Linked DNA regions of Homo sapiens. The protein of the gene in region 2 interacts with the protein of the main gene of each other region in a pairwise test. Each region holds a gene or a part of one and is shown on either strand. Other genes may lie near its edges.

The links.
Region 1: the proteins of WT1 (region 2) and CASZ1 interact in a two-hybrid assay, tested with the Homo sapiens proteins (one large-scale study listed by BioGRID and IntAct).

What each region holds. Positions count from the first base shown.
Region 1 is NC_000001.11:10,653,457-10,657,261, reverse strand, and holds part of CASZ1 (zinc finger protein castor homolog 1), read left to right. Parts: intron 1-525; coding exon 526-616; intron 617-1,448; coding exon 1,449-1,613; intron 1,614-2,670; coding exon 2,671-2,843; intron 2,844-3,043; coding exon 3,044-3,805. UniProt on the Homo sapiens protein: Transcriptional activator. Involved in vascular assembly and morphogenesis through direct transcriptional regulation of EGFL7.
Region 2 is NC_000011.10:32,428,896-32,432,700, reverse strand, and holds part of WT1 (Wilms tumor protein), read left to right. Parts: intron 1-1,887; exon of another isoform or gene 1,888-2,161; coding exon of another isoform or gene 2,162-2,171; intron 2,172-3,805. UniProt on the Homo sapiens protein: Transcription factor that plays an important role in cellular development and cell survival. Recognizes and binds to the DNA sequence 5'-GCG(T/G)GGGCG-3'. Regulates the expression of numerous target genes, including EPO.

The DNA.
Region 1 (3,805 bases), on a different chromosome or scaffold from region 2:
CGGCGGCTGGAGAGTGAGCTCGTTGCTGTAGGAAGCCAAACAGATGCTGTGCTTTAAAAATTCATAGCTCTGCACTGTTTCAAGTGTCAGGAAAAGCCCAGGACAGAGAGAGCCCTTTAACACCTCTCAGCATCAGAGCCCGGCTGGCCCAGCCAGGGTCTCTGCACCTGGCCAGAACTGGGCGGGCTGGGAGTGGGGCAGGTAGCCCCTGCAGAAAAGACAGGTGGGCAGCCGAGGGGGCGCCTGCCTTCCCTTCCATCCCAGGGCTCGGGCCCCATCTGTCTCCCCCTACTTTGACTTTTGGCCACCTCAGTGTTGTCCTGCCCCTTTCTTGGGGCCAGGCCTCTTTGCCTCAATGGGCCTGGGATTCCCGCCAGGCCCAGTCACTTGCCTGGGCCTCTGCAACTTCACCTCCCCTCTGCATCCCATACAGGGCCCGAAGAGTCCTCCCTGGGGCTGGGGCTGGGGCTGGGGCTGGGACTGTCACCCACAGCAGGGCCCTGACCCCACCCCTCCTCCCTCCAGGTTCTCGGGCAGCCAGCACTGTGGCCACATCCACTGTGCCTACCAGTACCGCGAGCACTACCACTGCCTTGACCCTGAGTGTAACTACCAGGTACGGCCACAGCCAGATGGGCTCCGCCTCTCCGCCACCAGCACAGCATGGAGGCGCTTAGAAGTCGGCAGGCGGGGACGGCAGTGGGGGGGGTTAGTTCTAGTTGCACCACCCAAACTTGACTTGAGCAGGTAGAGGGCCCGCAAAACCACCAGCCTGCCCACATTCCCCGATTCCTGCCGACAGAGCAGCTCCTACGATTGGGGGCCAGTGACCTCCCAGTGGTGATCATTCCAGTCCCCTTTGACTGAGAGCCTCCCACGTGCCCAGGGCCATGCCAGCCAGCCTATGAGCCTTGCCTAATTGACTCTTTGCAGTGGCCTTAGAAGGTTAGCATTACTGCCCCATCTTAAAGATGATAAAATTGTGGCTCAGCCAGAGTGCCACTGTGCCCAAGGCTGCCCGCCAGTGAGCGCGGGGCTGGTGAGTGGGGGGAGAGTCAGGGCAGCCTGCGTGGGGTGGCTCCCTCTGGCTTGCCAGGGATCCCAGCCTGCCTTAGTCCAGAGGTGCACTGGGCGGGATGAGCTGTCAGCATCAGAGCCCCTGCCCTCAAGGCCTGGCCCAATGCATCATCTGTGCTCCTGGGGATGGCCACTGGGCACCTAGGGGAGCATCGGGGAAGAATCTATGGTCCTAGAACCTTTGGGATGGTTCCCTCCAAGGGCTGATGTGCCTGCCACTGGCCTTGGACAATCTGGGCTGCCTTGACCCCAAGCAGGGTTCTTTCTAGGGAGACCTGAGGCCAGCACCTGGCCCAGGTGCTCTTGGCATATGGGAGGAAGGGCGGAGGGGGAGCTCAGGCTCCTGCCCACGTGGCGCTGTCTCCTGGCAGAGGTTCACGAGTAAGCAGGACGTGATCCGCCACTACAACATGCACAAGAAGCGCGACAACTCCCTGCAGCACGGCTTCATGCGTTTCAGCCCGCTGGACGACTGCAGCGTCTACTACCACGGCTGCCACCTCAATGGGAAGAGCACCCACTATCACTGCATGCAGGTGCCTCCCGCACCCGGGCCCACTGGGCAGCTGCAGGACTGGCCCAGGCCCTCCCGGCTCTGAGCCCCCCACTCCCAGAGGCAGGGCTGCCCCATGGGCAGGGACCCCAGTTGATCAGGAGCCTCTCTTTCCCCTGGCCCAGCACAGGGATGGCCAGCGAGCCAGGAGGGTCCTGGGGGTTCAGGCTTGGGCAGCGTCTGGTGGGCCAGGGTGGGGCCTTCCCCATGGCCATACTTGGTGTGGATGAAATTCAGTGAGCTGTTTATACAGATGGACATTTTTCAGGCTTTAACACCAAGAGCAGCATTGCAAATGATTCCTGAGGAGGTTTTTGTTTAATTCTTTGTTTTAATGCCACGCAGAGTCTGGGCTTTTTCAAGGTGTCAGGGCCAGGAGGAGCGACTTTGGGTTGCAAATAGCAGCCCTATGCCTCCCCCGGTATTTGTCAGGAGTTGTTATGGCCTCTGTGAACAACCTGGGCCACGAGGAGAGGGGGGCCACCCTCTGGGCTCTGAGATGGTGCAGACACTGGCACGGCCCAGCCTACGAGAGTGTTCGGATTCCACGGGTTTTTACTCAATATGGCAACGTTGCCTTCCTGGCCCAGCTGGGGTGGGGTGGGAGGGCCCCGTGCCCAGGGACTGTCCACTAAGCAAATCCCTGGGCTAAAGGTGACCTCCAGGGTCCAGCCCCTGTCCACCCACTGAGGGTTTTAGAGGTAGGGCCATGGATTGGAACTCAAAATCCAACTCCTGCAGGATGCAGCTCCCTCCCCTGGGCCAAAAAGTGCCCTGAGTCTCCGGAGATGCCCTGATCCTCAGCACAGACGGAGCCAGGCTCCAGCAGCACTTGGTCCCTCTGTGGAGGCCTGAGGGGCTGTTGGAGGCTTTCTACTCTGCTTCCTACATCAACATCCCGAGGCCTCCAGTTTGAAGTCAGAGGTGCCAAAGCTTCCCTGAGCAGGGAAGTCAGTGGCCCCAGCCACACACAGTGGTGTCGACCTCGGCCCAGGAGCACCTGGCCTCCGTTCGCCTGACCACCATCCCGTCCTGTGCAGGTGGGCTGTAACAAGGTGTACACGAGCACGTCTGACGTGATGACCCACGAGAACTTCCACAAGAAGAATACCCAGCTCATTAACGACGGCTTCCAGCGCTTCCGAGCCACCGAAGACTGTGGCACAGCCGACTGCCAGTTCTACGGACAGAAGACCACGCACTTCCACTGCAGGTAAGCGGGAGCCTGGTGGGGGCCTTCGTGGGCAGAAGCGGGGAGGGAAGGCAAGGACCCAGGCTCGTGGGACGGCTCAGGCCCCTGCCTCGGTGTCCAGCCTGGGTTTTCCACCCGGGGGACTGTCCCTCCCAGGGCCATGGTGTAGCAGGGTGGGGCCTCCTCTGGGTCTCATGACAGGCTCCCAATGTCCCATCCAGGCGCCCCGGCTGCACATTCACTTTCAAGAACAAGTGTGACATCGAGAAGCACAAGAGCTACCACATCAAGGACGATGCCTACGCCAAGGACGGCTTCAAGAAGTTCTACAAGTACGAGGAGTGCAAGTACGAGGGCTGCGTGTACAGCAAGGCTACCAACCACTTCCACTGCATCCGCGCCGGCTGCGGCTTCACCTTCACCTCCACCAGCCAGATGACCTCTCACAAGCGCAAGCATGAGCGCCGGCACATCCGCTCCTCGGGCGCGCTGGGGCTGCCGCCCTCGCTGCTGGGCGCCAAGGACACGGAGCACGAGGAGTCCAGCAACGACGACCTTGTTGACTTCTCCGCCCTGAGCAGCAAGAACTCCAGCCTGAGCGCCTCCCCTACCAGCCAGCAGTCCTCTGCGTCCCTGGCTGCCGCCACTGCCGCCACCGAGGCTGGGCCCAGTGCCACCAAACCTCCCAACAGCAAGATCTCGGGGCTGCTGCCCCAGGGCCTGCCTGGCTCAATCCCCCTGGCCCTGGCCCTCTCCAACTCGGGCCTGCCCACCCCCACGCCCTACTTCCCCATACTGGCTGGCCGTGGGAGCACCTCCCTGCCTGTGGGCACCCCCAGCCTCCTGGGTGCCGTGTCGTCTGGGTCAGCAGCCTCAGCCACCCCTGACACACCCACGCTGGTCGCCTCGGGAGCTGGAGACTCAGCCCCCGTGGCTGCCGCCTCTGTCCCGGCACCACCCGCCTCCATCATGGAGAGGATCTC
Region 2 (3,805 bases):
AATATCTGGATTCTTCTGTAATATACAGGCGTGGCTGCCATGGAGAAAAAGTTAAAAGGGGACCAGGACTAGTAGGTGAATGTATCCTTCTTCTCCACCCTGGAGAAAAAGCCCAATGGAGAGAGGGCCCTAGATTCAAGTCATATAGCCTGGAAGCACCATCTCCAGGTTTAAGTTTTGTCTTGCAGTGAAAACAGATGGGTCCATCTTACCCAGCCCTTGAGGCTCATTGGGCAGCTTGGATGTGAGAAGCGCTCCGGCTGCTATCCTGGAGTGGGCAAGGGTGGCCCTCGAGATTCTGGGTTTATTCTTTGGATTTCCAGGGTTCCTGCTGCTTCCCCAGGAATGCAGGGCCTGGCCCAAGACTTGGGCTGTGAGAGGCAAGGGCATCAACTCTCAAAAATGTGGAAATGGCCATCAGAGCGCCAAGGCCAAACCCCAGGGGAGAGGAATCAAGGCCGTCTCTGGATCCCTAGGGCAGTCTAGCCATGGTGCACAGGCAGGGGCAATTGTTGGTACCCACTCACAACCGCCCAAAACTTCACAAGCATGTTCATATTTTAAATTCTTAAATATTATATCTTGCATCCTAATCTTGTAAACATTAATTTAGCAAACATCAATCGCCTACTTGGTCAGGCACTGGGTTCTGAATATTAATTAAGACAATGGCCTCGAGAACCTTTGCAAGAAGCTCACCAGCTAATCCTGGAGAGGCCCCTTGTTTTGGATGAGGAAATCCAGGTTCTATGAGATTAGGTGGCAGAGGTGGGATTTGAACCCAGACCATGCTAGGGTGTTTCTACTCCTTTTCCAGGGATCTTGGCCCCACCGTTGAGATGGATTTCTTCTGGCCTGCGGGAGGGGCACCAAACTCTTAGTCCATGTGTGGGGGTTGACGGGTTTGTGAGGGCAGATGTGGGGTGAGGACTTGAGTAGCCCCAGACTAGATGCAAGGCTTAAGGAGGAGGGGAAAAAAGCTTGCTTGGGCCGGACGCGGTGGCTCGAGGCGGTTGGATCACCTGAGGTCAGGAGTTTGAGACCAGCCTGGCCAACACGGTGAAACCCTGTCTCTACTGAAAATACAAAAAAAAAAATTGGCCGGGCTTGGTGACGGGCGCCTATAATCCCAGCTACTCGGGAGGCTGAGGCACAAGAATCGTTTGAACCCGGGAGGCTGAGGTTGAAGTGAGCTGAGATCGCGCCACTGCACTGCAGCCTGGGCGACAGAGCGAAACTCCGTCTCGGAAAAAAAAAAAAAAAAAAGAGGTTGCCTGCTAGTCCACTGATCCCGCAGCCCCGCAGGCTCGCAGAACCCTAAGGCATGATTAGGCCTGGGATCATCAGGCCACCCTAGGGTCAGGTGCGGAGGCCTGCGACGCCCGAGGGCCAAAGGCTCCCTCTTCCGGTCACACAGGAGAGGGTATTTTGTTGGGGGACAGGTTTTCCCCAATCACAGTGCAGCTGCAGTCATCGTTTTCAGCCTTCTGAGCACCTTCCTGGCTGAGCCTGCTGTCCATTTCACCCCTCAGCTCTCACGGCCCGGCCAGGCCAGGCGGTTCCCGGCTTCTCTGCAGCCGCCGGCGGGGGAGGAGGGCACAGAGCGCGTCTCGCCTCTTAGCGCACGGTCAAGGTTGCGCTCCCCTCCCGGGCCGGGACTAACCGTGGGAAAGGCGCTACCTTGGCCACTCGATTCTCTCCCTCCAAGGCCTGTACAAGGAGCCTTTGAACACGCTGCTCCTTCCAGCCGGCAGCTTTACCTCCCCTGGCCCCTGCCCCCGCACTCTCCGCGCCAGGCCAAGCGCTGGGCCCAGGGACAGCGCGCTCTAATCAAACCCGTGTCCGATAAGCTTCTAATTAAAAGAGACCTCCCTCCGCTCCGCAGGCGCTTTCACCACTGCCCCTCCCGGGGGGACCTGAAGGAGAGGGTTTGAGGCCGGTCTTTGCCCGCCGAGGTCTGCGTGTCCGGTCTGGGAGGAGGCCTAGGAGGGCTCGCGGGCCACGGGCATCCTTGGGCCCGAGTTCTGGGGTGCGGACGGACGTCTCGAGAGTGGGTGCCGCGACTCGGGACCCACGGCCCTCGCCGGGCACGGACAGTTGCGGAGCAGGGCTCTGAGGATTGTGCAGTGCCCTGGGTCCCTGCCTACTCCTGGGCTCAGGAATGGAGAAGGGTTCGTCTAGAGAAAACTTCTTCGTAGCTTCTATTTCGTCTCTCTCTCTCTCTCTCTCTCTCTCTCTCTCTCTCCCTCCCTCTCTCTCTCTCTCTCTGTGTCTGTCTCTCTTTCTCTCTCTCTCTTTTTAGTGTCCTTTCAGAAATTCGGCCTTCACTCCGGGCAATAGTGGGTGCCCTGAGCCAAATTTCGTTTGTAAGCTCATCTATAGGCCTCAAAGAAGGCCAGGCCTCAGGTTTCAAAAGGAAGTCTGTGGAAGCCCAAACGTGCTCGCCCATGCAGGAGAGCTAACGGGGCCGGGGGTTATCTTTGCCCACTTAGCAGGAGAGAAATGGAGGCCCTCGAGGTCATATGATAAAAGCTAGTGGCTTCTCAAATCCCCAGTGTGTGGTGCTGAGCAGTGTGTGAGACTTAAGCCTGGACCTGTACTATCCGGGAGTTAGGATTTGCCCCCTCCTTCCCTCCCTTGCACTCTGCCACACCACCCTCCAGGCTCATGCCTCTGTTGCCCCAGAGAAGCTTTTTTTTTTTCTTTTTCTTTTTTTTTTTTTCTGGGCGGGGGGTGGTGGTGTGTGTGCATGAGCGTCCGTGTGTGTTTCGAAAATGGAGGTAACGATGCCCTGGGTCCTGCTCATCGGCTGAGTCCTGCTTAAGTCTTTGGAGGCACTTTGGTCAAATAGTGCAAGAGTGGGAGAATGGGTGCTGTTTGACCCAATTTACTCCTGAGAATTTTGTGAAGTTTGGAGACCCAGGGCAGTCCTGGGCCAGGAGGATCTGAGGCTGCTGGGGTGGCCCTGCCAGGATCCCATAGGAGCAGCTCTCCTTAGCCATTGTGTCTGGACTTCAGGCCACAGACTCCGGAACTTGTAGAGGAATGAGACCCCATCCTTGGGTTCCGGGGCCAATGACGTATCTTTAGCCGAAGGATCCTTTTCCCCAGAGGCAGCAACAGCTTTCCAGAAGCTTGTGGGGTATAAGTTTAAAGCAATTTAATAACAAAAATTATAAAAGACTATGTTTTCCAACTGAGGCTCCACGCTCTTTTTCTCACTTTGGGGGGGGGGGGGAATGCTAGGATTTCCCTAGGGGGAAACTGAGGCAAAGGACCGAAGCACTACCATGGAGGGAAAGGGAGATACAGTGTCAGGCACACTCTAAAGGAAATTGGTTGTCCAGCCTGGGGAGTGAGGAAGTTGGCTCCTACAGCAGTGGTCAGGGTCGGACCCCTGGGCGCAAGGTGGGTCCCATAGGGGGGAGGAGGAGGAGAGCGCAGGGTCGCCATCTGAAGGCCCAACTGGAAGGGGCCCTTGTTTTCCCCCTCACCAGCTTTCCCTTGGGTGTCATGGTGTCAGGTCGGGTAGCCCCAGACAGATAACATTACTCGGTAATTACTCTTCCCATTTTTAAGACCAGGCCATTTAACTGGCTCCGAGTAATTAATGAAAGTTGGTGCGCGGGCCCCTGATTTACAGCTCGGAGTCAACGCGGGGTTAGCCCAGCAGATTCATTTCGCTTGCCCGCGCTGCTCCTGCGGAAGAGCTGCAGTTTATTTTTGGGGGGTGAACAACCTTCTCTGTCGATCAGGCAACGAGTTTTATACTTAATTTGCCAGGGGTTCGCTGCAGAAGCGGCAG